Linked DNA regions of Homo sapiens. The protein of the gene in region 1 interacts with the protein of each later gene in a biochemical or structural test. Each region holds a gene or a part of one and is shown in the gene's direction. Other genes may lie near its edges. The genes, in order: TLE3, USP47 and TCF7L2.

Region 1 (10,213 bases):
AATAACTCTCAGAGGACAAGAGGGTCCCAGTGTACACACGATTCCCTGTTGAACCTGAACCTTGTATAAACAGGATATAGGGCACATGTGGTGCTTGTGGGAGGGAAGGCCCAGCTCCCCTTACTACCACATAATATAACGTTCTGTTGAGATGAGAGGAACGCTCGCCCTTGTCAGCTCTTAAACCGCTCTGTAAGCTGGCTTTGGGGTTTGATTTAAACTTCTTTAGCAAATGTATCGTAAAAGTATGATTTGGCCAAAACCTTTCCAAGAAAAAACTGATTTTGAAAAATGACCAGATTTCTGTGTTGTCTGTTAATAGCCATTCTTTTTACTTTTAGTACTATGAGATGTCCTATGGCTTGAACATTGAAATGCACAAGCAGGTAAGTGCTTTTCTCTTTTAAAAATATATTTCATTTTTTAAAAACTTATATATGTGGACTTCTTATGTTCTCTCTTGTTTGAAAGTGAGCCTGCTTCTTCGATTCCTCCCCCTTCTCCTTGAAGAGTGAATGGATCCAGTCCTTGAAATGCAAGGTCTGAGGCTTTGCTGATTTTTTTTTAGACATGTTGAGCTTTTAGCATTTGAGCTTGTGAAATTAGTCCTGGTCTTGGATCTCGGTGGAGGATAAAGGACCAAAGGGAAAGTTGTACCTCCAGGATCTGCTTTACAAACTCCTGAAAGCCCAGAGGTGGCTGGCTGCTTTTATCTGTTTTAATGTAAAATTCTCAAGAGGAAATGCAGGAGGATTTTTTTTTTCTTTCTCCTTTTTTTTTTCTTTTTGCAGAAATGTGATGTTCTGCCTTGATAAGATTAAACTTCAAGAACCTTAAAAGCCAGGCTGAGCTGTCGAAATTTAAGGGAACGAAGCCACTAACTGCTTAAAAATATGAAGCCAGAATGAAATACAACTTCAGTGCCTTGCATTGACAAGGTGGCTTTCTCATCCCTGTCTTGATTTGAAGGCAGCCGAGTTCCCATTTTACAGAGAAGGAAGCTGAAGCTCCTGGGTGAAGTAACTTGCCCAGGGGCAGCCTAGCCAGGACTTTCGAGATGGCTGGGGGTTGAGCTCAGCTTTGAAATCCTGAAGTCAAACCAGTTTAGCTAGTGTGGTGTCGTTTGATGGATATGTAAACTACCTGGTATTGTCACTCTTCTAATAACAGTATACCTCAAACCGAGCAAATACAAACACCCTTTATCTCAGTGCATATCAGTAACTAGTCCCAGTGCTAGGCTGGGCTGTGGGAGAGGCCTGTTTGTGTATTTGTGTTCTGAGGAAAGGCTGCCTATAATTTGGCTTGGCCAACGTTTAGAGTTGACTTGGCACGTATAAATGGAGCAGGCAGGCCGGTTGTTCTTTTTAACAATTGGTGTTCATGAAATCTCAGAAGGCTGTTGACTCATTCTAGCCTTTGGTGACCGTGACTTGAATGGATTTTCTGCTCTAAATTAACAGTCGTTTACAAGGTTTCAATTTTGCTCTTTAAGGAGGCAGGACCCAGGGCAGGTGAGAAGGGCAGGTGACCCTGGAAAGTGGGCAGATTCCTACCCACTCGGGTGGCTTCCTATAGAGCCTTTGGGATCTGTAGTTTCCTTTCCCCTCCTGGAGGGAGCCCCCAGTGTTGGGTGAAGGGAAGCCAGAAAGGGGCCTGAGTTTATTGAGCAATGTGTGGGAAGCCAGCTTGTGGCTTCCTGAGGGATTAGTTAGTCCCTTAGGAAGGCACATGAAGGCTACCATGTTTTTACTTCTTGACACACAGAAATAATAGACAGGGCTTTATACGTAAAGATATTTCTCCTTGGAAAAATAGAATAGAGACAGGTTCTGCAACTGGAAGGGGCCAGGTCCCGGAAGAATGCTTGAAATGGAACTGGGGGCCCAGGTGTTTCAAGGACCTTGGGGTGTATGCAGGGTGCCACTTCCTCCCTTTGTCTGCCCTGTCTTAATTTTTTTTTTCTCAAATAGTATCTTGGGTGTGTTTAAAGAGGGTAATTGCACCCAGGTTTAAAATTTATAGCAGCAGTTATTGGAAGAGCTTGGTAATTAAGGTGTAATGTCTCGTTGCATGTTGAGGTCTGCATGGGTGGTGTTCCGCATGTCTGTGAATGAATGGTGCTTTGGCACTAAGAATCCACCTTGGCTCGCAGCAGATCTGTTCTGTGAGTCCTGGGGATGCTGTGAACGCAGGAAGAGTTAAATATCTTAACGCATTTGGTGGTGGGGTTTATATAAAGAGCAGCTGTGTACATCTGGGATTTCTGGCCATTCCCCAAACAAGGTTCTTAAGGGGAGAATGCCTGGGGTTTGGCTACGTTGTCTCATTTAATCCTCTCAGCTGCCAGTGGTGGATAGAGGCATTCTTTGCCCCCTGTTTATAGGTGAGGAAACTGAGGCTTCAGGGAGGCCAGGAGGGCAGAGCTGGGATTCAAATCCAGCCCTCTGGCTTCCCCACTGGGCACTTTACCTTGCTTGCCACTCACCTTTGCCCTCTAGCCTGAGTTCCCAGCCTGAACATGTGTGCTCTGAATGCAGTGGCTTTGCAAGCTTATGGCAGTCTCTGAGTTGGGTGAAATCACCCTGTGGCTGTGGAGGAACAAAGAGGCAAGGAGGTGAAGAAACCTGTGCCGTGAAATGCAACCCTGATCTAATGGAGCTGGCCACTCCCTAGGTTTGCAAGGGTTCTGTAGAAGAAAGCCCTGCCACTAATTGTAGTGTGGGTCTTGGGTGCATTTGGCGAATGGTGGTTAGGCCTGAGCAAACAAGTTTATCAGCTGACCTGTTTAGCGGTTGACTGGTGTTTTATCGGCACACACAATCAAGTGACTGGAGTGCTTGAATTATTCATGCAGTGTCCTGCCCTCTAGACTTGACTGTTCGTGTGATTACATCTGCCTGGAACAAACAGGCTGGATTCTTCATCTTTAAGCTGGGGTGGGGGTGGGGACTGTCTGTACTTTTATATAATAGATGATCTATAGAGCTAGCACCTTGGGAAGTGTGGCAGTCCTCAGCCTGCGCGCATACACGCACACGCACTCCACCATCACCACCACATATTTTTTTTAAAAGCTCTCCTTTGCTGGCTCTATGGGAAATGCCAATTAGCTGGGAACCTCGAGTCCTGCCAGATGGGCCCGGGTATTGACAGAGGGCAGCTGATGAGGTGCGTCCAGCCCATTTTTATTTTACTGAGAGGTTAAACTCACTGTGGCTGGCTCCTTCTCTGGCTGTTTCTCTGTCTCTCTCTTTTTCCAAGCTGTCAAAATCCCAGAGAAGTAATAAATGGTTTCTCCTCCTGCTCTTCTGCCTCCCTCCCTAATTATGGTAAAGCAAAGATTACAGAATCACAGGCCTGGCCCGGGACTTCAAGAGGTCACCCACCTCCACCAAGCCCCCTGCTTCCAGGCAGAATGTCAAGGGTGGTTCAGAGAGTCTGGGAAGGCAGTGATGACTGACCGGCTCATCACTTGCCATCTTGTTTGTGCAGAGGCTTTCCAGTGTCAGCCACAAATAACAAAGCCAGCTTAAAACCAGGGGCCCCAGAGCAATTGCCATGCATTGGATTTGAGGCACTGGCTCTCTGAGAAGCTGGGTCAGGCAGCCTTTTCACCCACTGTTGGTGAGCACTGACATTTTTGAAAGTGGACTTGAGCCATTTTGATTTTGGGGCAGTGTCGTGCCGACACAATACAGTCACCTTTTTCTGTGAACTGAACAACCTTTCCTGTAAGTTTCTCTTTGAATCTTGGAACTGGAAGAGCCCTTTGGCTTCTCATGCAAACTTTTCAAGTTACAGATGAGGAAACGGTGGCCCAGAGAAGGGAAGCTTATGTACTCAGTCATACAGTCCCACGTTAGTGGTAAAGCTGCTACTGCTGCTTCCCTTCCAACCCAGGACTCTTTTCTGTAAGACTCAAGAAATGAAGAGTGCTCCTTTTCTAGTGTATTCTGTGTCTTTAATTACTATTGCTTCTTTCTGTGTTATTATCCAAACAGGCTAAGGCTACAAAACTGGCCCCACCAAAGTCCAAAGTGCCCCATTTCGGGTTGTATAATCATATCACTGAACCCTTATTGTCCACAGTCCTGTTTTGAATTGCCAGCTATTTGCACAACTAATGATTTGATGTGTGTAATAATAATACATAATGCATAACTAGCAATCCCAGAGGAAAGATTCACAGACCGGGAAAGGTGGTATATATAACCTGTGAACTTTTTACCCTAGCCATGGGGTGCCATAAACACAGGGCTGAGGTAGGAAATGGAAAATCCCCATTTGTCACTCCCCTCCCCTCCCCGCTCTGGATCTTCTCATCTAAATGATAAGGGGCTCACCTGGAAGATCTTGAGGCACACAGAAGTTTTGTGACCACGGTGAAGGTGCAAGGTACAGGTGGCCAGAGGGAGCTACCAGGCAATGAGGTTACAAAGGACTCTGCCAAGGAGTTGAGCCTATCTTGATAGGAGAATGTGGGACCACTTGCAAAGTAGAAGGGGTCAAAGGTCCTTAGACTAGGGAAGTGCCTATTTGTGTGGCATCTGAGTTGAGCTGTGAAATTTTTTTTTTCTTTTTTGCCAGAGTGCTAGCATCCAAGAACCCTCCCACCCGGCCCCATGCCCTGGTATCTGTCTTGACTTTTCCTGCTATATTGATCTTCCCTGGAACAGACTGTAATCACGAGTCCTCTCACTGAGTGGGTGCCTGCCTCGCTCAGCTTTGGGGTCTGCTGGGCTCCAAGCTCCCTGCATGCTGTCTAGCTAGAGGGAGGTTGCCCCACCCCTCAAGACTGCCTTTGGACCCCTTTTCTCTAGTTGCCAGTGGGAGTGGTAGAGTGGGGGTTTCAGTGCTTTTGGGGTCTTTTCCTTCTTGTGCATTTGTCATTGAAATGACCCTGGGAGATGAGCAAATGGCCCCTTGTCCTTACTTTACAGATCAACGGGTGGGAACCTGGCTCCTAATTCGGGACTCATTCTCTGAACTCTCTTGGACCAGGAGCCCGTGGCAGACACGGAGTTCTTCCTTTCCTTGAACTCCTCCTTCCCACCTAGGCTGTTTGTTTCCATTTTGTTGAAGGAGTGAGTCAGTCAAGGAATAAATCTCCTTTTGCTTTCTACGTGGGAGAATGTCATTCTGTCTCATTGTTTGTACAAAATACTGGGACACCAGGGGCAAAAACGTGACAAAGACCTAAGCTTGGCAGTGTTTTCCCCTGTGATCTGGCACTCATTCCTCGTCTCATTTTTGTAGGTATGAAGGAAGCCCCTCTGCTGAGGTCTCTATAGCACTTAGTATGTAATAGGTGCTCAGTAAACATCTTGGTTTTTCTTCAAAATTTACTCAGGTTATCTGAGAGTAGAGTTCCGATTCCCTGAGCCCTGTGAGTAGGAAGTGGGGATTTTAGTTGTGGGCTGGCCGCCCGCTCTGCAGGCTTCCTCCTATGGCCCAGCATCCAGTTTCTTCATCAGTGAAATGAGGGGGTTGGATTCATTCCCAAAGCAGTTATTAGGGGACTGGGATGTGCTGGGTGTGGGCTGGGGTTGGTTACACAGCCGAATAAGACACCATTCCCTCTGCGGGGGAGTCGGATGTCTAAAGAAGTAATTGCAATGCAGTGAGGTAAGTGCTAATGTGGCCCAAGTGTCATAGGAGGAGCACCCAGCACAGAACAGCTTATTCTTCTTGGGTGAGAGCAGACTTCACTGAGGGCTTTGCTTGGCGCGAGTCTGAAAGGGAGGGTAGGGTTTATGAGGCAGAAGTCGGCAGCCGAGGCCCCTCCAGGGTGGCAACAGCTCGCGGCAAGGCAGTGAGATATGTTCTAGAAGCCACACGTCTTCGGAATGATGTGGGGCGGGGACTGCACTTGGGAAGTGAGGCGAGGTGGTGACATTTTGCAGCAGAGCGATCTCCAAGGCCCCTCTGCCCTTGCAGTCGCGGCTCCCCACCCGGTGGCTCCCTGCATCCCTGCATGGCTGGCTCTCCAGGGCTGGCCTGAGTCCATCTGCCGCGGGGTGGGGGTGGGGGCGGGGGCGGGGGCCCGCTCTGGGCCGTTTGTGGCCTGCTCTGCCTGCTTTCCTACCGTAATATGCTGCTTTGAACTTTATTCCCCAAAGTGGCATTGTCTCCTTTCTCATATTGGTAATTCTGTAATGACTGGTTATGACCCGCCCCCTCCCCCATATTTAATTCTCATCAGCCCAGCTCTCCACTTTGCTATTAATGATAGCAGCCAGCAAAATAGCTTTCAACATGCCATTGACAGTCTGGTTTAAGAGAGCACTTGAAGTAGTGCTAGACAGCTGAAAGCACCCATAATTGTGTACCAGAGTGAGAACTGCGTGCTCAAGGGCCTTGTTTTTATATGCTTAAAGGGACAATATCTTGTTTTCAACAAATGCTCTCTGAGACTCACAGCCAAGATGCTTTCTTCCTTTTTCCTTTTCCTTTCTTCTTTTGGCTTTCTCTTCTCCTTCAAAATACATATTTAAAAAAAATTCTTTATAAAATAATTGTTCCCTTCAAGTTGGGGTTAAGGAGAAACTTAAGGAAGGGGGAAACGTCCTGCCGCCATGTAAGCGGGGAATATTTGGTGGGTTTGTTGTTTTGAAGCATCGTCCTTTGCAGGCAGCAAGCTGTGGGTCAGCCTTGCCCTACTGAGGGTCCTTAGGACCTTGCGTTTCTCAAGGAGGTAATGGGAGAGTCTGAATTCGCATCAGCATTGATTTTGAATTCTTTTCTTTGCTAAGGATGTTGCACAATCAGTGGGCTGCAGAGCTGTCACTGTGAATGTTTAGGCAGAGGCCACCTTTTGGGGGAGGGCTGGAGGAGAGGGGTCACCGTGTTGGAGAGTCAGGCCATGACCGCTAAGGAATCAGATTCTAGGAGGCTGTTTGCTGCAGAGTTGATGGCCCAAGAGGCCCGTCTGGAAATCAACAGGGTGGGTGGGGCAAGGACTTGTATTCTTAAGTACAGGTTCACACCAGGCTTGGAGGGTTAACCAGGGGGCCCGGCTAGTCCACCCGGCAGATTTTATCTGAGAACAAATACTTTTCTCCCCTTCACACCAGCCGACTTCATTATTGCTTTGAAAATGCAGTCCTTTGGAAGAGGTTTCCTTTGCCTCTCTGTCACCAAAGCCTCCCATTGCCAATGTGTCCTGTGAAGGGAGAAGAGAGAAGCAACTTCCCATCTGTGGGGCCTGAGAGGCCAGGGAAACCCTGTTGGGGCCTGAAGTCTATGTTGTCCTGTTCTCTCCCAGGCTGGCTGCTCTTGGTAAAGGGTAGGAGCATGGATGGGCTTGGCTCGTGTGTCTTAGGTGGTTCCTTCCATCACCCACTGTGTGAAGGATAGGATCCAGTGTTCTGGCTGCTGCCACCACCAAATAATCCCAGGGGAAGTACTTTCCAGAGGACAAACTGTTTGAAAAATTTGATCTTCCAGATATTATAGATTATAATGCTACGGCCTCTTAGAATTTCTGTAGCACTTGATTGCAAAGCAGATTCGACATTTTCATCTTAGCAGCTAAAATAATGGGTATTTGGGTCCAGGACAGACAGACACCAGGATAAAAGCATCAGAGCATACCCTGAAAGCTTGGGGTGTGAAGATGACCTGTGTACTAGAGGGCTGTGTTCTCAAATTGGGGTTGGGGAGGTGAGGCCTGTGCTGTGACAGGACTGTGAGTTCCGTGAGGGACAGGACCATTTTGTATTTGTTTTCACTAAGGGTCCTGAACCCTGAGCAGTGCCTGGCCCATACTGGATACACAGTGTGCATTTTGTGGGGACTCAAGGAAGGAAGGTAATATTCCAGCTCAGGGTTCTCTCTGACCCTGAATAGTGTTATGGACTCTTTGGGAAGGATAGAAGCTTTCTTAGTTTTCTGACAGAGGCCTGTAGGCTGCAAACGTTGTGTTTGTAGAAAGAGTTGTAAAGGTGTCATGAGCCTTTATTTAAAAGTGTCTTTAATGTATCTTAGGCATCTTTTTCTTTTCATCTAACACTATGGACAGTTTAAGTGCAAAAGGGGAAGAAGGCAGGGTGGGGGTGCGAAGAGATAACTGGGAGGAAGAGATGACAAAGCAGAGATGCGGAAGAGACAAGTGCTGAGTGGGTGAATTGGTAAACTCGGCTTGCCATGCCTTGGCTGTTTGGGCATGGAGTTCCAAGTGTTGTGGCCTTATCTCATGAGCCTTTTAAGTTTGACTATTGTTCACAGTTCTTCTACTGCTTTTTTTGTTTGTTAATTTTGAATGAAAACTACCGCAGGCCGATAGAAGTTTCTTTTTCGTTTGCGCTGGAAGGCTGACCCTTTCCTCAAGTGGAGACCCAAATGCAGAAGAGCTCTTCCCACTAGTGTTTTAGCACTGAATACCAAATGCAATTTGGGTACAGGAGAGGGCTCTCCCTTCCTGGTCAGCCATGAAGACTTGAGGTTTAGACTCCACCACCCTGCCAGCTATATGACCAAAAGGTTGGAGGAGGCGGCCTTTCACCCACTTCCCAAATCTTTCCCTTGGGCTAGCCCTCGACAGGTCTTTGCTGAGTTTGGATCTGAAACTGATTAATTCTGATAATACTGGCAGGGGCATGCTTTGGAACCGGTGATGCTTTGTGATTTCTGCTGGGGAAAATGAGAAGAGGAAGGCAGTTCAGTGCAGACTAGTGGACAAGGGATGGGAGTCCATTCTAGCTCTCTGGTGGGGGTGAGGTACAAGAACTTCTATTAACCTTCCTGGCCTCTGTCCAGGAAGAAGTAGGACACTCAGAGGGCTCAGAAGCAGCAGGTGATGCCAGATGGTCTGGAGTGAGGGTCTAACTGGTCGGGTGGGATAGAGGAAGGAGGAGCAGGGGAGACAGAGGAAGTGAGCCTGTTGGCACTGATTGGTCAATAGGTCTTCAGCTCATCCTTAAACCCTTACCTGCTTCTTTTCCTAGAAGGAGGCCCCTTCCTCTGATCTCTCTCTCCAGTGAAGAAAGCTGAAGTCCAGTTCTTATTTTGCTTTGCCTAACAACAGAAGTCCTGGGGAAAGACAGGAAGAATTGAGATTGATGGTACAATCCCTGTCTCCCATCCCTCAATCGCTGGGTTTTCATACTTTATCCCAGAGAAATGGGGGATCTCCATGAAGCCAGACTTGAAATGGGGGAGAAGCAGCCTGGTTTAGAGCTCGAAAGACATGCCCCTCTCCTGCAGGGTCCTGCTGCTGTTGGCCTGGTGTCGGTCTCCATGTCACCCAGTCCTTGTGTGTGGCAGGCACCCACAGGCCTGGTCTGCAGGAACTTGAGAAGTGTCTAGATACCCCTTTCTCTTAGCCTTTTGGGTTTTCTCACTATTCTTTTACCTGGTTTTTTACCTTACTTCTCAAGAGACCCCTACCCAGCTCTTCCTCACTATCCATTTGCCCAGGGATATTGGGCAAACTCCCTTTTTAAACTCCCAGGATGTTGAATGCCCATTGGGCCTACTGGATGATGGATGGGGTGGGTTCCCAGCAAGCCAGTTTTTCTTGGCCAGTGGATTCCCTTTCTCCCTCAGAAGATCACAAGTTCTTGCCGGGTGATCCTGGAGAGTTAGGTATAGAGCACCAGAAGCTGGGAGATTTGTCTTCATGGCTAAGAGGTTGGCTTTGGAGTCAGACAAATGTGGGTTTGAGTCCCAGATCAGTTCATGTTGGTGTGTGACTTTGAGCAGACTGTTTGACCTCTGTGATCTTCAGTTTGCAGTGGAGATAATAATAACACCTGCCTGTTGCGGCAGTGCTGTCCAGTAGAACTTTCTTCAGTGATGGAAATGCTGTATGTCTGCACTCTTCAGTAAGGCAGCCACCAGCCACGTGTGGCTCTTAAGCACTTGAAATATGGCTACTGCGACTGAGGAACTGAGTTTGAAATTTAATTTTAATTAAATTTAGCTAGCCACGGGTGGCTGGTGGCTTCATAAATTGTACAGTTACAGTTATAGGGAGTGCCATGAAGGATGCATATAGCCTGCTTAGCACAAAACCTTGCACATGGAAAGGCCGAAGCAAGGTATTCTCACAAGGGGACAGAGTCCCCAAATTGTCAAGGCCTCAGACATAGAGGACAAGATCCTTGGTGTTGCATATGTTGTAAGATTTCTCAGAGCCCTTTCCCATATGTGACTTGTTGGCTCTACGGTCCTGCAGTGTAGGCACCGTGGGCGCCACGCATCAGATAGC
Region 2 (10,213 bases), on another chromosome or scaffold:
AAAAGTGATAACAGCAACGGAAGTTTAAAGATTAAATGCCTGTCCTTTTAAGATTAATTCCCTTCCCTGAGGCTTTAAATTCATCACAACTTATGTTTTTTCCCTTTCTTCTTTTTATGGACCATATGCCTTTATTGTCTATTCCTTAGTCTCATCTTCAGTCTTCTTTTTCCCTGGTTCCTTTCATGATTCCTGGAAGCATGATCTGTGGTTCTTACCTTTTATAGCTAGCCAACTAGCTTTTTCTTCTTTGATGGCCACACTCATTCTTTATTAAAGTGATTGCCTCCAGTTCCATATTTGCTTCTGGATTACTGGAAACTTTTTCTGAAAATCACCAGTTATCTCTTAAATGACCAAATTCTTTGACTTTTTTTTTCTTGCCTCTTCTGCTGTTCGAATTCTCTGCAGGATCTGATAGTTTTTTTAAAAAAACAATTTCTTGATTTTAGTGATACTCCACTTTTCTGGTCATTTTCCCACCTGTTTGTCCTATCTGCCCACTCATTTAGTCAAGGCCTTTCTCTTCTTTTTTGTATTCTTAATTGGCACTTTTGTGTGATCCTTGAAGCTCCGGGACAGGTCCTTTTAAACAGTAGTAGAATCATACAGTGCTAGAGCTAAGAGAAAGCATAATCATCATCTAAGTTACCCCTCCACTTTACAGTTAAGGGAGTTAGGCCCAGAAGATTGAAAGTGACTTGTTCAGGGTCAAATAATGAGTAAATGGCAGACCTAGTGCTAGAACTCACTTCCTTTGCTACTATTCCCTTGATTATACCCTATTTTACAGAGCCCTACATGTAATTTAGAGGCTCTGTAAGAATAGTTTGTAACTCTCTAAGTACATATATATGTGAAAATAAATGGCAAATTAAAAAATTTCATGCATTTATTTTAATGGCTTATTATCAATAATCTAAAGATTTTTTTTTTTTGAGGGCCTTTGTATAGGGAACCTCTGACCCCTGCTAGATTTAGATCTTGGTTAGATGTGGGCATGTGTGCGTGCGTGTGTTGGAGTGTATAGTTGTTCAGTGAATAATATATTTTGGTCCCTGAAACTCAAGGACAAATGTACCTTTAGAGGACTCTTGAAGAAGACAGCTTAGTGTAGTACAGGCATTGGCAAACCACGGCCTGTGGTCCAGATCAGTTCACAGCCTGGTTTTGTATGGCCTGTGAGTTAAGAATGAGTTTTACATTTTCGAATTGTTGAAGAAAAAAAGTCAAAAGAATTATAATAGTCTGTGACACATGAAAATAATGTGTAATTCAAATTTTAGTCTTGAAACAGCTATGCCATTTATTTAGTATTTTGTATGGCTACAACAGCAGAGATGAGTAGTTGCTACAGAGACTCTATGCAGGATAAATTTGAAATTACTTAGCTTGGTATTCAAGGCCCAGTACCATTGATTCTGGCCACAACCTGTCCTTCCAGCTTATCTCTTCTCCCATGAAACAGGTTTTTAATGTAGTCAAACAGGTTTCTCTCTAACTTGCATTTCACTTCTGTTTGTGCTGCCCCCTCCTTCCTGTTCAAAACCTTCATACACATTTTTCCATAAGTACCTCATATCTCATTTATGCTAAATAGCCTTTTCTGACCATTTTAACCTTAGAGATTTCTCCCTCTTAGAAGACCTTTATATAGGAATAGAATTCATTTGGCAATTACTAGATGGTGCTTGGCGACATCTATTATGATCTGAAACTGTAATCTACATTTTATATATTATTTGTTGTGAATTCCTTGACAGCAAAGACTTGGTATGTTTCTCTGTCTTTGCTTTTTGTTTTTGTAGGTTTTGTACTATAGGTTTAAGACAGTGTCTTTCCTGGAGCAGATATTCAGTAAATATTCGTTGATGTGGTGACAGAGTTGTAAGTAAATTTAGCATTCTAACCAATTATCCTGTCCTTGGAGGTTTTCCACAGCATCATTGGCAAGCTATTTGCCAACTTTTGCTTTAATACATACTTCTATGACTAATCTTTGATAAAATCTTTGTCTTAGAAGAGATCTGTTATTTTTAAGTTTTTGAGTTGAGAGAAGTCTAGATCTCTATAGCTGCCATCTTTTGATAGTTGCCTTACAGAAATGTTAAAGCATTTCCCATAGGATAGTTTTTCTCATCATTGAAGATGGGAGAGGGTAGCCTGAGAACTGACCTTTTCTGTTCTGAGTCTGAGCTTCCTCAGTTCTTTAACTGTTTCTTAGTTCCTCTCTTTTGGACATAATCTGGGGTTTTTAGTATTCCTCCTAAATTGTTGTACCCAGAAAGAGCAAAGAGAGTGGTATCTCTTCATTGTGGTGAAGAACAGAGCTTTTCACCCGTTTCATTCTGCCGTATGTCTTTGAATTGTAGTATATTGATTTCTGCTTTGAGGTCTCTTTTAATAGCATCCCAATTTTAATTATTGTTTGGTTGCTATTTTGTTATTCTGTTTTCTTATAAGGATGTGTGTCATTAATATTCATTGAGTACTCACTGTGCATATTACTGTATTCTGCCAAATAGGAAAAACTTAGAATAGAAAAATTTGTTCTTCTCTCAAGTGTCTTATAGAATGATCAAGGATAAGGTGCATATTTACTGATGCTTTAAAAATAATACTTAAACTGCAGTACTTAAAGTAGTGCTCATGGACTCTAAATCCAGAGAAAATGGAAAAAATGAAGGAAAAAGAGTAGAAATGTAAATTCTTTATCTCTGGGTTTTTTTCTCCTGTCTTTCATGCAATCACTACTTCTGTCTGGAACTGGTTTTGGCATCTAATGATGATGATGATAGTAATAACCAGTATTTATTGAGCATTTATTTATATACCAGATACTGTTGGTTGTGCTTTGTATTAACTCATTTGAGCTTCACAGCAACCTCAGAGTACATAAGACACATTGATAGCAAAAACAACTTATTTTTATTTCTATTGTCTGACTTCTTATAAAATCCATTCATCAGTATCTATTATGGAACATGTCAAATGCATATTCTTTTAATTTTATTTCTCCTAATTAAATTACCTGAGGAAATGTGCTGCAATTGTCATTCTTGATTTTAGTGATTCTTTTAAAATGAGGCTTTTTCTTAAATTTCAGATGTTGACTCTCTCTTACCAGTAAGAGACAAGTTTGTCAAGTTATACCCGCCAGCGTTTTAAACAAATTGGAGTGTTTAATAAAAGTCAGTATTTTAGATATCATTGGAAATGCTCATTTAATGAATGAAAGCAAAAGCTGAATGCAGAATTGTATATGATTCTAATTTTGTCCAGGAAAAAATGAACAATTTAGGGTTAAATGCGTTGAAAGATTAGAAGGAATACACTAAAATATTAAGAGTTGCTATTTCTGAATTTCTGGATTATTGGGATATATATTTAGACTTTCATATTTAAAAATGAGCATGTACATTATTTTCAAAAACAGAAATTGAGATGATCTGATTGTAGTTTTGGGGGTATTTACATAGTGTTTTTTTTTTTTGTGCTCACAGTTTTCCTATTTCCCCTCTCCTCTTACTCTGTATATTTGTCTTGAGTAATCGGATCCACTTGTATAGCTTCAACCTTTGATTGTGATTTACACATTTATATCTCCAGCCCTGACCCCTTCTAGATTCAGATTTCCACTGTTCTGGATATCTGTACTTGGTTGTACTCTAGGACCCACAAATTAAATATAGGTAATATCGAACTTATTTCTCCTTCCCTTCTCACAACCCAATTCTTGGTGTTCTCCTGTTTCAGTTAGTGTTATCGCCATCTATTTATATGCTTAAGTTAGAACAGTTTTTGACTCCTCTCTTTTCCTTTTTCTCACATATAGTTCACCACTTAGAAAATGTCTCTGTATCCTTATCTTTCTCTCCATGGCTCTGCCTTTGTCTAATTATTGTTATTTTCTCCAATGTGTAGCCTTTCTAATTGGTCAGTCTGCTTCCAAGGCCTTTCCTTTCTTAACCATCCTCCCCACAACTGCCAGGGTTACTTTCTAAAACAGATGAGATTAAGATTTACCTGTTTTAAAGTTTATAATTATTACCCTCTGATTGCAATTTGAATGATAGGTACTATTTGTAAACAGTATGTGCTAGACACTATGCTAACCAGTTCACTTACATTATCTCATTTGACAGTATGACAGTATTAGCTATTATTCTTCATTATCCATTTTACACATGAAGAAACTAGGCTTAAAGATGCTAAGTAACTTGCTCAAAGTTACATAGCTATTTGATTCTAAATCAAGGTAGCTTTAACCAGTAGGAAAGTCCTTGATAATATGGATTCAGTTGATTTTTTAAATTTAATTTTTATCAAAGTTATGTTTAATACATGCATATATTTATAAGAGTTAAATAGCTCTGCAGAACTATAGTCACTTGTCACTTAATGATGAGGACCTATTCTGAGAAATGTATCATTAGACATCATTTGAACATGATACAGTGTGCTTGCACAAACCTAGATGGTTTAGCCTGCTACACACCTAGGCTATATGGCATTGCCTGTTGCTCCTAGGCTACAGCATGTTACTGTACTGAATACTGTAGGCAGTTGTAATACATCATAAGTCTTTGTGTGTTCAAACATACAGAAGGTACAGTAAAAATATGGTATTTGTAATCTTATGGGACCACTGTCATCTTTGTGATTGTTGACCAAAATGTCTTTATATGGCACATGACTATATTTACAAAAACAGTAGGTCTCTGCAAATTTCCCCTCATTTCAGGCTGCCTAGGGGCAACTGCTTTCAACTCATTCTTTTGATACTTACTTCCATATTTGAAACTGGCATTTTTTTTTTTTTTTTTTTTGAGACGGAGTCTCACTCTGTCACCCAGGCTGGAGTGCAGTGGTGCGATATCACCTCATTGCAACCTCTGCCTCCCGGGTTCAAGCGATTCTCCTGCCTCAGCCTCCTGAGTAGCTGAGACTACAGACGCGCGCCACCACACCTGGCTAATTTTTTGTATTTTTAGTAGAGATGGGGTTTCACAGTGTTAGCCAGGATGGTCTTGATCTCTTGACCTCGTGATACGCCTGCCTCGGCCTCCCAAAGTGCTGGGATTACAGGCGTGAGCCACCATGCCCAGCCGAAACTAGCGTTTTTATAGTGTTACTTCTTGATTTTTCAGTTTAAGATATTTTTCAGTTTAAGTAAAAATGAGGGTTTACCACTATCCCCAACCACACACAAGCACACATTTTAACCCTGCCCAGTACTCCCAATATTGTCATACTGCAAGTCGTTTGGATACATCCGCATTTCATAGAGATGGAGTTTCACTATTATTGCACAAGCTGGTCTTGAACTCCTGGGCTTAAGCAATCCTCCTGCCTCAGCCTCCCAAAGTACTAGGGCTATAGGCGTGAGCCACCATGCCCAGCCTGTATACATCAGTATTTCAGTTTATAATGACTCCATTTTCACCATGTTAGCTAGGCCAGAGTTAGTAATTTTTAACAATTTTGCTTTGCTTAGTTTTCTGTATACTTATTAAATTAGCCAAGTGGTTATCAATTGGGGCCCATTTTCTCTCCAGAGGACATTTGGCAATGTTGGGGGAGGGGAGGAGAGTGCGGGTGTGTGCTACTGACATCTAGTGGGTAGAAGCCAGGTATGCTGCCAAATATTCTTCTGCACTGCACAAGACAGCCTCCTGTAACAAAGAATTAGAAGGCCCACAATGTCAGTAGAGCTGTTGTTGAGAAACCCTGATTTAGCCCAAACTATCTCTCAAGTGTATAAATGGCTTATCTTCAAACCTACCAATTTTGACTTCGTGAGAAGCTCTTTCCCAGGGCCTTCTGACCTACTCCAGTTTGAACTTGTTAAAGCTAGAACTTTTGTGCAGCTGTTGTCTTGGACTTGCTTTACTGTCATCTTTATGATTCTCTCAGTTCTGTCTTGTTTTGGAGCCCCTGTTTCTGTATCTGGTATCTTTGGCTGTCTTTGTTTACTTTCTCATTTTGAAGGGCCACTTTCAATAGTTCTCTGGATGGGATAGAATTTTTTCAAGACTATACATGTCTGTAAATGTTTTTTCTCCCCTCTTGTTTTATGGATAGTTTGGCTGGGCAGAGAACTCTGAGTCAGAAATAATTTTTTCTCAGAATTTTGAAGGCATTGCTCTACTGTCTTCTATTTTTCTGTGTCGATGTTGAGATCAGATGCTTAGAACATCCTTTTCAACTATTTTGAAACTTTCTTTTTTTCTCTTTGCGAGCTAGAGAGAGAATCTTTGTCCCCAGAGTTCTGAAATTCTTGTATTATGTAGTTATATGTCTGTTTTTTTAATTCATTCTGCTAATCCTGTTCAATCTGGAATTTATCTCATAAATTCTGCAAATTTTCCTTAAATAATTTCTTTGATTTCCTCTCCTTCATTTTATCTCTCCTCTCTCTTTTGAATTCCTGTTGTTAGATGTTGGGCCTACTGATGGGTTTCTCTAATTTTCTTGTCTATTTTCATCTATTTTCCATTTCTTTACATTTTTTTTCTTTGCTTTCTGGGAGATTTTTCTCAACTTTGTCTTCCAGTTTTTCTACTAAGTTCTTATTTCTGCTATAATATGTATAGTTTCCATTCCTTTTTTTGAAAAAAAAATCCTATATTTGTTTTATGGATGCAGTGTCTTATCTCTCTTAGGAAATATTGGTAGTTTTTTTTTTTTTTGTCTGCATATTCTTTTTCTTCCAAATTTCCTTTTTCTGTTTGTTTGCTTTGGTCTTTATCTTTCATATTTGTTGCTTTCCTTAGATGTCTCATGATCCTTGGCAGTCTGTGCTTATTTAAGAGAGAGGCCCTAAGCTGAATGGAAGCTCTGCTTTTGTGTGATTATGGTTTTTTGTGTAGGATGGTAAATCTGGATGATTTCCTTGCAGACTCCCAGTCTTAGTCCATTTGGGCTGCAAAAACAAAATACCATAAACTGGGTGGCTTATAATCCACAGAAATTTATTTTTCACAGTTCCTGTGAGTGAGGCTGGGAAGTCCAAGATAAAGGTGCCGGCAGATTTGGTGTCTGGTAAAAGCCTGCTTTCTGGTTCACAGAGCAGCACCGTCTCGCTGTGTCCTCACATGGTGGAAGGAGACAAGGCAGCTCTCTGGGGCCTCTTTTACAAGGGCACTAATCTCATTTATGAGGGCCCTGCCTTCTTGATCCAGTCACCATCCAAAGATCCCACTTCCTAATATCATCATATTGGCAAGTAGGGTTCAACATGTGAATTTTGGGGTAAGGAGACATAGGCATTTAGACCAGGGCACCCAGTGACACATCTTTTCTTTTGTGCTGGATTGTTTTCCCAGACAAAATTTCTCATCTTTTGCCAGGAGAGAACAAGCTTGAGAGCTGAGTAGGAAAAGGGGATATGGGTCTCATCTTTAAGCATGCAGATTAACCTAATTCCCCAGTTTTCATTATGGCACCCTTCAAATTCAATTGAGCATGTTGTCCTCTAGTCTAGATATATCCTGTTATATGCTCTCTAGAGATTGTTTAGTCTTTTATCAGAAAGGGTTGAAGAGTAGAAGAGGAGGTCTGGGGATTTTCACTACTTCTTAGATTTTGGTCAGTTCTAGTTTGGACTCCACTCTCGTTCCCAAAGTGTCTGAAACTTCCAGTTCCTGAGCCCCTTAGTTTATTTTTTTGTTTGTTTGCTTTAATGTATTTACACAAGAATTGCGGAAAGAGTACAAAGTTTCCGTATACCCTTCATCCAGCTTCTTTTTATCTTAACATCTTATATAACCATAGAACGATGATCAGAAGAAATTAACCTTAGTATAATATTATTAACTACACTACAGAATTTATTCAGATTTTACCAGTTTTCCCTCTTATAGTTTTTGTTTGTTTCAAGATCCAAATTTAGGATACCACATTGCATTTGGTTATCATATCTCCTAGTTTCCTTTTATCTGTGATAATTTTTCAGTCTTCATTTTCAAGATCTTGACACTTTTGAAGAGTACTGGTCAGTTATTTCATGGAATGGCTCTCAATTTGGGTTTGTGGATGCTCTCTCATGAATAGATTGAGGTTATGAATAAAAAGAAGGATTATCACAGATGGGATGTGTTCTTCTTAGTGCATTATGTTGGTAGGGGGGCATGATGCTGATACGTACTACTGGTGATGTTAACCTTGATCACTTGGGTAAGAGGGTGTCTGCTAGGTTTCTCCACTGTGAAGTTACTATTTTTCCCTTTAATAATTATTAAGTACTTTGATTTAAAGTTACTCAGCCAGGCAGGTCAAACTTTAAAAATAAAATAGCTTTTAAAAATCAAATTCTTTGAGACCATGCAGATAACCTATTTCCCCCTAAATTTCTGCCCACTAATTTTATCATCTATCTGTGATCTTGCCTGCAGCAATTATTACTGTGGCTTAATAATAGTGATTTTCTATTTCTCTCATTATTTCTACATTTATTAATTTAAATTCTTCTGTGAGGAGAATTTGTCCTTCCCCCCACCCCCATTTATTTACTTATTTATTTGTATCAGTATGGACTTATGGATATTTATTCTTTGGATTATAATCCAATTCTATATCATTTATTTTGTTGATCAAGCTGTTCCAATTTTTGCCAGGGGGTGCTTTTTCTGGTGGGCTTCTGTGCTCATCCTTGCTTTTTGAGCACTCACTTCCTTACTTTCCAACACCACATAATGCTTCAGCCCATCTTATGTTTTCCTTGCCCCAACCCTGGAATCAACCAGTTCTCCAAGGAGTTTAGAGGTCTTTTGGTGTACTAAATGTCAGTGTGATATAAACTAGGTGTCTTTGCTTTCTTCTAGGCTAACATGGAATTCAGCCTTCCTAGTTGTAATTGTCATTGCCACTTATTCTGTTTTCTAGCTTTTAAAATTGTGTTTCTGTTTGTTTGGGGTTAATAGTCTTTCAAAAATTTCTTAACTGGGAGGCATCAGAGCTAAATCCTTATATTCAGTCTATCCTCTTTAACCAGAGATTCTTAATGTTTTTGTCTCATGCCCCAAGCCAGTTTTGTACAAACCACATTCCACTACATTAGTTGCTGTTCCTCAGATGTGCTGTTATATGTTCATGTGTCACTTCTGTGCCCTTGCCCTGACTGAATACTATGAAGTATTTCTTTTTGTCCTGCAGTTTTTAAGGAGTTTTAAATGGGTGGACTTTTATTTTACATGAAAATGACTATTTGAATAATTAGGATTCTTGCCTATCTTCTATTTTCTCTTTTTTGGATTAGTCATATAGATTTTTTGTCTTTTAGTGCCCAGATACTGTAATTTTTTTTTTGCCAAATGGAAAGGAGGAGTTCCTGCATCTCCAGAATAGTAGGGTATGGTGATAGCCCAAGTTAGAAAGAAAAGATTGTATCAAAAACAGGGGTTGTAAAAAACAGAGCATTAAATATATATATTTAAATACCTATTGTAAATTAAAGTTCCAAAAGACATCTACTTTTAGAACAAATTCCTTGGTATTAAGGACCTTCTTCAGTTCAGGCAGCATGTGTAGGTGGCATGATATGCAGAGGCATATTCTGTTATGAGGTTTATGACACAGATTTTCAAATCTAACATACAGACATTCTCCATTGTGGAAAAGTATTTGGCAAAATGATTGTGCTTGGCAGTGATGGCAGATGACTGACAAAAAATGATGTGATCTTTCACATCGACGTTCTTAAAGAATATGTGTTTTCCTGAGCCTGGTTTTTACTGGTATAGTGTAAGAAGGGATGGATGTAGATGTAGTGTGAGTAAATAGATGCGTCCTCTCTACCTTACTGCATACTTCCATTTCCTTTGTCCTTAGGTGTGGAAGTAATAATTGCCCTCTTCTTTCATTTAATGAAACTAAACTGAAACATGCATACATAAAGTATCCATGTATATGAATGTTTTAATTTATGCAAAACTGTTATTGATATAACCTGCTGTTGAGAGATTACAGTTTTTACAAAAATTACTGAGATATATGTCTCAAGTTTTGATGTTCTTTAAAACATGCTCTTAAAATCCTATCCAACCGGCTGGGCCTGGTGGCTCACACCTGTAATCCCAGCACTTTGGGAGGCCGAGATGGGTGGATCACGAGGTCAGGAGATTGAGACCATCCTGGCTAACACAGTGAAACCCCGTCTCTACTAAAATAAAATAAAATAAAAAAAATTAGCCGGGTGTGGTGGTGGGCGCCT
Region 3 (10,213 bases), on another chromosome or scaffold:
AAACACCATGGAGAAGCCTAGATTGGCAATTAAACAGCTCTTGCTGACACTCACTTGTGCCACCCTGTGACCCCCTTTAGATTGAGATGTTGGAGCTCCGGGCCCTCAGCCTGCTAAATTGGTGCAAGGCTCTTCTCCTGACGAGAGCCGGCTCTGAAATCTGCCGGCTTCAAAGGGAGCGAGATCATGTATAAACCATAATGTGGGTGCACCGTGGCTCACAAAAAATAAGGCAGGAAGAGATGAAATGTTACAAGTGCAAGGGGGAAAATGAGAGAATAATGACAAACCTAATGCAACTCAAAGCAGGATTGTTGCACAGGAAAATGCATCCTACTGCTTGTGCATAAAATCAAGGCCGGCAGATGACATCCGGTTAACAGAAACGTGTCAACAGTGAAGTAAAGTGAGAGTGAGTAAGAGAGAAGCCCCTGAGACAGCCAGAAACAAAAATTAGTTGTTCTTAACAAGTTAAGGTTCATCATTATATTCTGGCTTGGAGCCATGAAAGCAGACGGGGGTATATAATGAGCTGCTTAGAATTTTTAGGGTGTTTATTGCATTTCATGAAATAGTAGTCTGCAGAAAGGAATTTCTTAAGCGAAGGTATGTGTATACAGCCCACATCCATGTTCACACATGGTCTCTTTCTTTGCTGAACATTTTTCAGATATGGGAATATACGCGTAGGTATGGGAACTTAGAAATGTGCCTTCTTCATGGCTGCATTAGAAGTTTGTCTGCACCCCAAAATGTACTCAGATTGTGGTGCCTTCCCGTGGTATTTGGTGTATGTACACACACGTACACACACACACTCACACATGCAGTGTTTTTCTCTCTCCCCCTCCCTCTCCCTCTCACGTCTGTACACATATTCTCATTCTGCAGGAAGGGAACATATGTATTTGAGGAATGTCAGGCCTTCAAAATTCACAGTAAAAGCTGCCACCCACCACTTCACCCAAGGGCTTCCAAGAACACATGTTCTTAACTTCTGTTTCCTCTGAGGCCTTCGAGCAGTGGGAAGGAACAGGGTGTCACTTGGAGCCCAAGTGTCTCCCAAGGGGTTTTGCTTTTTTTGTTTTTCACATTATTTTGAGAGGAAGGGGATGAAGATGAAGGTTGTTAGCATGTTTGTTTCCTTACATTTTCCTTCTCTCTCTCTTTTTTTGATACATTCGAAGGACTTGTATTGTTGTTATTTTTAAAATCATGTCATGCAGTCTTCACTACTGGCTTAAATTTGTAAAGGCAGTGGCAGGAAAGGCCACGTCAGCGTGGGATTTTTGAGTGAAATGTCTACTGTGGCTTGGGCCTTCTTCAAGAATCAGCATTAACTTTCCTTCCTCTGTTGATCTGTGTAGATTCAGTTAGTACTTTAATCATTTTATTATTTTTCAAATTAATGTTTGTTACCTTATTTTGGCTGAATGGAAACTATCTCTAGCCCGCTTCTGGAAAAAACTTTGTAAATACATACAGAATCATTTTGGAAGAATTGTCGTGATCGATCCTCATTAGGCCCTCTAGTTCCCACCAGAATTGGCTTTGTAAAGAGCAGATTGTTATTCCTTGGATGGTACATTGGACTGCTTTGGTTTGGACTTATTAAGAAAGCAACAGTTGCCATGATCTTCATCTGAACAGCTTCCCATCTGCTCACTTGAATCACCTTGCCAGGTTGGAGCAGGAGGCTGCCATATTGTTTACTTTTGGGATTCTGCCCTTTCTGTCCCTCACTATTTTTTCTATAGTAGGATATGTTGCTTGAAGAGGGGTGAGTCTTCCAACCCAGTACAAATCATGGTGACACCACGCAAAATTGAAAATGAGAAAGGTGTTTGATCCAGTTGTCAGTCTGCAGATGGGCCAAGAGTAGGTTGAGATTAGCTCTTTCTGTCCTGGCTAATGTACTTGGTTGGGAAATGCCAATTCAGGTCCTAAAATGTGCCTTAGAGAACTGTCCAAAAAATGAGCAGCATGAGAGGAGAAAACACAAACTGTATCTTTCATTTATAATTTTGATAATCATTTAGAAGACTTCTTAATGATGCCTAGACAACATATGAAGTAAAAGTGATATAGGAATCCTAAATTTTAGAGGAGAAAGGGCATACAAATCAGAATCAAAGGTTTATTGTGTGTGTGTGCACCTTTCCTTTCCTTTTTTTTTTTGCATCTTTCCATAAAGGGATAGAAACTTATTTAAAATGTCCATGACTTATGATATGAACCAAATAGGAACTATTTGAATTTTCCCTGTCTTCCTGCCTCACTCTCTCCCATTCCTGTCAAATGATGGGACACAGCACAAAAGAAAAATAAAAATTGTATTGCACTTCATCAACAGGATGAGGCCTAATGAGGCTTGCACAGCATTGTCAAAAATGTATGTATATTTCAACCACGTTAATATTTTATTTAGCTGTCAATATACAACAAAAGATTTCACCTTTCATTTTAGAGCTGATTAGGACTTAGGAAATTGTCTTCTTAGATGCCACTAATAATGCCTCAAAAAACAAGTGGACGTGCGATTTCTGGCAGGTAGTCCAAGCCCACTTTTCCGCCCAAGTACGTCAGTTGAATTTGTCTTTTGCTAAAGATGTTAAAAATCATAATGTCTTATGTCAGTAGCAATAATGAATTGGCTTTAATGACATTATGAGAATCATTATGTTTAATTTATCGCTAATTAATGCTGACAGGTTTCATATGCCTTGGGTTGCTTTCATGTGAGTGTTACGTGCTGTTTTTTTTTTTCTTTTTAATTGTGTGTACACATCCCTCCTCATTCATTCATTTTGATTCTGACGATTTACACAGCTTTCTGTCTTCTAGGTTCCCTCCCCATATGGTCCCACCACATCATACGCTACACACGACGGGCATTCCGCATCCGGCCATAGTCACACCAACAGTCAAACAGGAATCGTCCCAGAGTGATGTCGGCTCACTCCATAGTTCGTAAGTGTTGCTGTTTTTCTCACCTTCTTCGTAGCCGCAGTGTTCTGCAAGCCTGTTGCAGCTGCTGGGTGGTGGCTTTCTGCCTAAGGTTGGCCTCGTTTGGTTTGACTGCAGCCAATACCCAGCCTGTGTGGGCTCTTCACTCCCTTACAAAGAGAGAGAGAGTGCACAGTGGCAGAATCTCACTGTACCACCGTGGGTTAGAACAGAACTGTTTTTTGTGTGTGTACTTGGATACACTGGGATTTGCAACCACTTCCCTGCCCCCTAACCGCATCATTGAACATTTAGAGCTTTGTTCTGCAAGCAGGAGAAAACCCTGCCGAGGTGAAGACAGCAACCATGTGCTTTCCCCTCTGGCTTGGGAAAATTGTATATTTGTGAAACTTGAGGAAGTGATTGCAAAATCCCTCTCTTCCCCCAACCCCTCCCCAAGCTATTTTTGTTCCATTTTCCGGGGTGCAGAAGAACTAAAAGCATGCTTTTTAATCCAAAACTGCTAGGCTTGGGGGTTATGAGACAAGGAGATACGTTCCCTGCCATGGAGGAAGTTGGACCACGACCTTGTTTATTGGGTTGCGTCTGTTTTGTCTATCTCCAGAAAGCATCAGGACTCCAAAAAGGAAGAAGAAAAGAAGAAGCCCCACATAAAGAAACCTCTTAATGCATTCATGTTGTATATGAAGGAAATGAGAGCAAAGGTCGTAGCTGAGTGCACGTTGAAAGAAAGCGCGGCCATCAACCAGATCCTTGGGCGGAGGGTAGGTGACGCCCTTCTCAGGGAGAAGCGGGGGGCGGGTGGTGAGGGACCAGAGTGCAGCAGGTCAGGTGGCAGAATGTCTCTGTCCCCATTTCTTTGGAGAATTCTTGCCCTTCAGCCACATTCTGAATCCTTGAATGGCCTTCACTGAGTCAGGACTAGTTATTCTGCACTCAGCGTTCAGAACAGCCACAGCCATGCTCTTCCCCTACCCGAGCGAGTGAGCAAATGACAGAATGACATAGATAACAAATCAAGTTTTGTCTAAACATTCCTGTTAGTGCCAGGACCCAGCCGACGGTCAGTATGTACAGATTATACCATTTCTGGACGGACTCACCCAAAAAGGCAGCATTATTTATCCCCTGACCTTGGCGTAATGTGTGATGTTCTTTCATGCTTTTCTCTTTGTTCATGTCTTTCTCATCTGTACCCCACGTCCCCTCCAGTGGCATGCACTGTCCAGAGAAGAGCAAGCGAAATACTACGAGCTGGCCCGGAAGGAGCGACAGCTTCATATGCAACTGTACCCCGGCTGGTCCGCGCGGGATAACTATGTAGGTGGATCATTTTCGTTAGGATTGGAGTCTGTAGAGCTGTGTTGTGCGTCTATACGGACAAAGAGAACAGGACCTGCCACTTGACTAGGGTGGGCCTCAGGACCATCCAATCTGCCCGCTTTGGGGACTGGTAGCATCTTCCTGGATCGCTAAACTGCAGGGAGGGGCTTCCCGTGTGGATGGTTGGATCAGCTCACAGTCATTCTTCAGGGTGGAGAGAGGAGGCTGCAGTCCCAGTGTTCCAGCTCAGGACCAATGAGGTTGATTTGGTGCTTGTCTCCTTTCTAGAGGAGGCAAGGCTCTTAGGATACACCCAAAGGACCTTATGTTCCGGATTAGGTTCCGCAGGCTCCTCAGCAGTGATCAGTGGTGTGGCCTTCTAGGGAAGACCAGTGGGTAGGTGTGGAGGAACAGAATTTAATTCCTCCCAGGCCTTTCAGCAGGCCCTTTACCGTTAAGAAGGAAAAACAAAACTATTCCTTTGTGCCATGGTGCAGTAGAAGTTAGAAGCCTATTTCATCCTGAGAGGAGCATGATGGGAATATCCCTGAAAGCAGCCAGAGGAAGTCAGCCTTTGGCAGGATGCATGAACCGACTCTGGCCCCAGCAAGGGCAGGGAAAGTGTGCTATGCGGTGTGTGTGTTCCTGGGCTCTGTGTTGGCTACAGGATCTGCCTAGTCCTCTCTTGGGTTGTAGGAAACACCATGGGATGATTGTTTTTACTAATTGCAGTGGTTGTGACCCCACGATTCCTCTCCTCCCATGAGCACGCTGTCTTCCGGAGACTTCTGTCACTTCTCACCATTGCTGGTTATCCTCCATTTTGCCCAGTAACTCCGCTTTCCTCTCTCGAGGGATGAAATGCCTCTTGTTTTGCCTGATACTTTATTTCATGACATTTGGTTCCGTGAAGGGATTTCACCATCCACTCTTAGGGGAACACCAAAACTTGTCTTAAGGCCGGCACAGGCCTCTCATCCCCTTCCTGTCGATGTCTTGGAGCCATGGATGGTTACTTTTCCAGTTACTTTTGACTCTCCCACTGGCATCATCCGCGGTGAAGCAGCTTGACGTATAGGGGTCGAGGTCGTTAAATTATTACTGAATTGAGTGAAACATATCATGGCCTTTGAGGCTTCTGTGGCAGGGGCTGGGGACACACAGCTCTTAACTGCCTTGGCCTGGAAGTGTCATGGGTCACTTACTCCCATCACCCATTGGCCAGAGCTAGTCATGTGACCCAACCTAACTGCAGGAGATGCTGGGAAATGTGCAGTTACTGTGCACAAGTTATTACAGGGATTCAGAGTTAAGTCGGATATCTTTACTCCCTCAGAACTTAGCATCCGCCAGGAAATCGCAAACATCTGCCGGCCTATGTGATCCTGAGGAAGAGCTGCTTCTGCCTGCTCTGATGAGTAATTTCAGGCCTCCTTCCTCTTTCTTCTCATACTTTTAAACCCGTGCTTGCCATGTAGATGAGGGAACAGGGAGGTGCCCCTGGCCATCTTTCTCGAGGCCCTGCCCCCTTAGCTGGCAGCGCTAGACTGTGCTCCTCCTGGGAGTTGAATCAGGAAGGAGTGCTGGCACCTCTGGGATGGCGCGTGTGCTCTGCTGAGAGCCCTTGTCGCCGACAGATGGGCTTGCACGGGGTCTCCACTGCTTGGGACCTTTCTGTTTGTCCCCAGCATGTGTGCAGTGGGGAGGCCTTTCTTCTGGAGCTGAAAGGAAGAGGATGAGAAAGTGAATGCTCTCCCACAGGCTTGCTGTTCACCCCCACCTGACCCTGAGGTGGAGATTTCCAGTAGCAGGCAGGCTCCATAGCCTCCACGTACACAACCATATCATTTCAGGACAGCTGCTCTCCTGGTTTCGGGTCAGAAGTTCTTAGAGTTCATCTTGAGCTTCTACCTGCTACAGACCCAATTCTTTGAGTAATCTAGAATGATACCACAGAGCGGAATTCAGCTTCTCTATAGAGATCATATCCCCAATAGACATTTTGGGTCATAGTAGGGCCTTCATGTACAGCTGTGCAGGGCGTGCACTGCACAACTCTAGAGTATGTCATTTACACTGGGGTCTATGTGAATGGTGCCCCCTGGAGTTGTGCAGGGTGAAATCTCTACAAAGGTACAAGGCAGACTGTGATAGCTTCAAAAGAATACCGTGTTTGACTTGCCTGGGAGTCGTTTAGAGAAAGTATTGCTCGAGGCTTTTTGTGACATACTTTCTCGGTTTCAGAAGGGCTGTTAGGCACTCGAAATGACTTTAGCTCAGTTTTAAATTTGGAAGATGGTTTGGTATAATAAGGGAACTCCTGAGACGATTTGAGGTTTAGAGATCTGGATTTAGGGCTCTAGGAACTTTATCTCTTGTAAGAGGTACTTAGATTCCTATTACAATGGCTCATTACACATGGGTGTGAACACACACACTCACACTCACGCCTTCCTTTTATGCGCTAGGGAACACTGGGACTAAGAACCGCAGCACTGAAGCTTTTATGGATTTGAATGTGGTAGCAACTTAACTAGTATTTTTTTTTTTTTTTTTTAACTAACTTGACGTGGGAGTTTCCATATATTACTTTGGTCATTGTAAACTCCAAAAGCTTCTTCTGGAAAATATTTCCTGAGATCTTCTCATGGCTCTTTCACATTCCTGCTTTTCCAGCCAACTGGTAACGGAAGCCTTTATATCTTTACCTTAGGACAACAGAATTGAGTGAAACAGTCACGTTTGGATTGTCAGACTTGGTACCTTCTTTAGAGCCCAAGAGAAAACATCTTGAGTCCCATAGTAATATGTAACCCCTGGGATTATATTTGACATTATTTCCTTTTTAACCCTCTACACTGGGTAAAGGATAGAGGTCCCATGCCATTTGCTCACCTGAGTTTCTTTTCTTCTACCCATATCGTAGGCCCTTTCTTTCTTCTGTTACATTTAAAGGGGTAGTAGCGTGGCCACTTCCCTGGAGATGCATCTTCCTCTTCACTAAGTGTAGGGTTTATCCACTTTCTCATGTCTTCTTTTTATTAAAACACAATCCCTGTCCTCCAGAAGTCTCTAGTCTAAATGACAACTTCTTCAGTAGTCAACATCTCCGTGCTATATCCTAAAGGCACAGCTTCTTTGTGTGTAGAGGAATTTTCAGATGCCTTCACAGTATATTGCAAGGAATTGGAAACGGGGATGCTTTTTCACACATGGCTGAGAAGCCCTTGGGTATGTGGATGCTGATACTCCTTGAAGTTAAAACATTTCTGTGCCCAGTTTTTATGAATACTTCAGGCTCCTAAATGAACCGAAACTAGGCCCGCCTGCCTGTTCCAGGATAGCCAGGTGGCACTTTGCCCCTCACGTGGGAGAGGCGCGGGCATGGAGATGGTCCATTGCAGGCCCATGAGATGCCAGCTTCATGATAAAGCACATGAGGTCCTTTTAAAAGAAATTGTACATGAAGGAACATAGCGCGTTTCAACAAGATCCCCGAACAGAAGGCCAAAACAAAGCTCCCAAGTTGCACAGGCCCCTTCCCCTCACAGAAAAGATAGGCCATTTCTACAACAGATGGCCCTCAGCCCTGGGTGGAGCCTAAGCTTGGTGGCATCACCACCTTGAGGTTTTCCTGACAGAACCTAACGTGTTCTCGAGTTTCTTTCTTTCTTTTTTTTTTTTTTTTTTGAGACTGAGTCTTGTTCTGTCACCAGGGTGGAGTGCAGTAGCACGATCTCAGCTCACTGCAACCTCTGCCTCCCAGGTTCAAGTGATCCTCCTGTCTCAGCCTCCCCAGTAGCTGGGACTACAGATATGTGCCACCACGCCCAGCTAATTTTTTGTATTTTTAGTAGAGATGGGGTTTCACCATGTTGGCCAGGATGGTCTCGATCTCTTGACCTTGTGATCTGCCCGCCTTGGCCTCCCAAAGTGCTGGGATTACAGGCGTGAGCCACCGCACCTGGACCTCAAGTTTCTTTCTGCCTATCATTGTCTTTTTCTCTTCCGAGTTGACATCAACATACTGTGAGAAGCTTTAGGCAAAGGCAACTTTTAGCTGTTCTGAAACATATAGCAGTGTAAGACCATTTCATTTCAATGTATGCCAGGCAGCTACTTCATCTGGTAGGGCTATGAGGGGAGGGAGAACTAGTCCAATCCGGAATGAGGCAGTCGCCTCTCCTGAATTCCCCCCAGTCCCATTCCACATTTGCAACCTCGAGCAGATGGATCAGGTTGGAGAATATGAAAGACTCCATGCAGTTCATCCCCTAAAGCCCTCACTAAAAGAGCTTCCTTGGAGGGCTGGGCATTAAACTTGTAGGCAGCAGAGCCTTGTGGTTGAGGGCTTTGGAGCCAAGACCACCTGAGTTCTCTCCTGGCCCCACCACTTGCTAGATGTGTGACCCTGGCAAAGTTACCTAACTCGTCAGTTTTCTCCTCTGTGAAACTGGAATGGTGGTAATACCTGTTGAAGAGGATTGTTGTGATGATTAAAATGAGTCCATCTGCGTAGCACACCTAGAATCATGCCTGGCACCTGGCATATGCTCAACACATGTGACCCATTCATGGGAGGAGTGGTATCATCCTCATTATGTCAGCTAGAAGAGAATTGAGGGAACATCTTCTTTCTTACAGATGTCCACTCAGCAGGTTTTTTTTGTTTGTTTTTTGTTTTTTTGTTTTTAAACAGAGTTTTGCTCTTGTTGCCCAGGCTGGCATGCAGTAGCATGATCTCGGCTCACTGCAACCTCCGCCTTCTGGGTTCAGGCGATTCTCCTGCCTCGGCCTCCCGAGTAGCTGGGGCTACAGGCATGCACCACCATGCCCGGCTAATTTTGCATTTTTAGTAGAGACGGGGTTTCGCCACGTTGGCCAGGCTGGTCTTGAACTCCTGACTTCAGGTGATCCTCCCACCTCCGCCCCTCAGAGTGCCAGGATTATAGGCGTCAGCCACTGCTCCCAGCCCACTCAGCAGTTGTGAAAGGAGCCCAGATGATTCCTCGTTCTATTTCACCCTTTTCCCCTGCATCTTTAACAGCAAACTCTAAGAGAAGCCTCTGCTAAAGCTTTCATTCTCTTGATTCAGAGTGGGACCCTTTGGCCTTCATAAGTAAGAACTGTGAGCAGGTCAGGCAGGGCAGCCCTTGAAGCTGGTGCGGCCATGACCACCTTCATGTGCTCCTCAAAGATGGGCTCTCAGACTGCTTGCAACGCCATCATCCCACTCCTCTCTGAATCTTCCTCGTGCCGTCCCCCATTCCCTTTTATGGATCAAATGCTGTGGGTCAGGTTTGACAATGGACATAGGTACATGAGAAATGAGAGCTTCCCTTCACCACCCGCCAATCCCTTCTCTGCTCCCAAGAAGCGTGTGTCCCTCCAGCTGGGGTACAATGCAAGGGCATTTGGCTTGAAGCGGGGTTGGAGGTTGGACAAATACCGGGGGTTTGTGTGGATGGAGATGGCAGTATGGTCACTTCCTCCTGCCTTCTCCTTCCAGGTGCGCCCAGACACTCTTCTCACATCTGTTTCTTGCAGTAATTCCCTGTGTTTCATCTCTTCATCTAGGGAAAGAAGAAGAAGAGGAAAAGGGACAAGCAGCCGGGAGAGACCAATGGTAAGTGACAATCATCAGGTTAGAGGAAGGAGCTGTAGCCTGAGGACCACCCTTTTATGTTAGGTTTCCATCTGGGGGAGGCAGGAGAAATTCAAGGCCAGGACATTGTGGGGGAACCCTTCTTAGCTAGCCTTTTTGTTTATGCATTTTAATTAATTGCTTCATGACTGCCCTTTTAAAGCTAGTAACATCCATTGTTGCATGAAAAGCACATTGTAATTCTAGTGGAATGTGTTTTAAAATAACTGCAGAGCCTATAACTGGAGAGCAAGCGGTAGGCATGCCTATGCCGGGATT

Evidence for each region.
Region 2: of the proteins of TLE3 (region 1) and USP47, one has a biochemical effect on the other in vitro, tested with the Homo sapiens proteins (one study listed by BioGRID).
Region 3: the proteins of TLE3 (region 1) and TCF7L2 form a complex in vitro, tested with the Homo sapiens proteins (one study listed by BioGRID).

The regions. Positions count from the first base shown.
Region 1 is NC_000015.10:70,084,705-70,094,917, reverse strand, and holds part of TLE3 (transducin-like enhancer protein 3), read left to right. Parts: intron 1-128; exon of another isoform or gene 129-192; intron 193-341; coding exon 342-386; intron 387-10,213. UniProt on the Homo sapiens protein: Transcriptional corepressor that binds to a number of transcription factors. Inhibits the transcriptional activation mediated by CTNNB1 and TCF family members in Wnt signaling.
Region 2 is NC_000011.10:11,843,799-11,854,011, forward strand, and holds part of USP47 (ubiquitin carboxyl-terminal hydrolase 47), read left to right. Parts: intron 1-10,213. UniProt on the Homo sapiens protein: Ubiquitin-specific protease that specifically deubiquitinates monoubiquitinated DNA polymerase beta (POLB), stabilizing POLB thereby playing a role in base-excision repair (BER). Acts as a regulator of cell growth and genome integrity.
Region 3 is NC_000010.11:113,148,154-113,158,366, forward strand, and holds part of TCF7L2 (transcription factor 7-like 2), read left to right. Parts: intron 1-2,829; coding exon of another isoform or gene 2,830-2,844; coding exon 2,845-2,970; intron 2,971-3,571; coding exon 3,572-3,731; intron 3,732-4,179; coding exon 4,180-4,287; intron 4,288-9,867; coding exon 9,868-9,916; intron 9,917-10,213. UniProt on the Homo sapiens protein: Participates in the Wnt signaling pathway and modulates MYC expression by binding to its promoter in a sequence-specific manner. Acts as a repressor in the absence of CTNNB1, and as activator in its presence.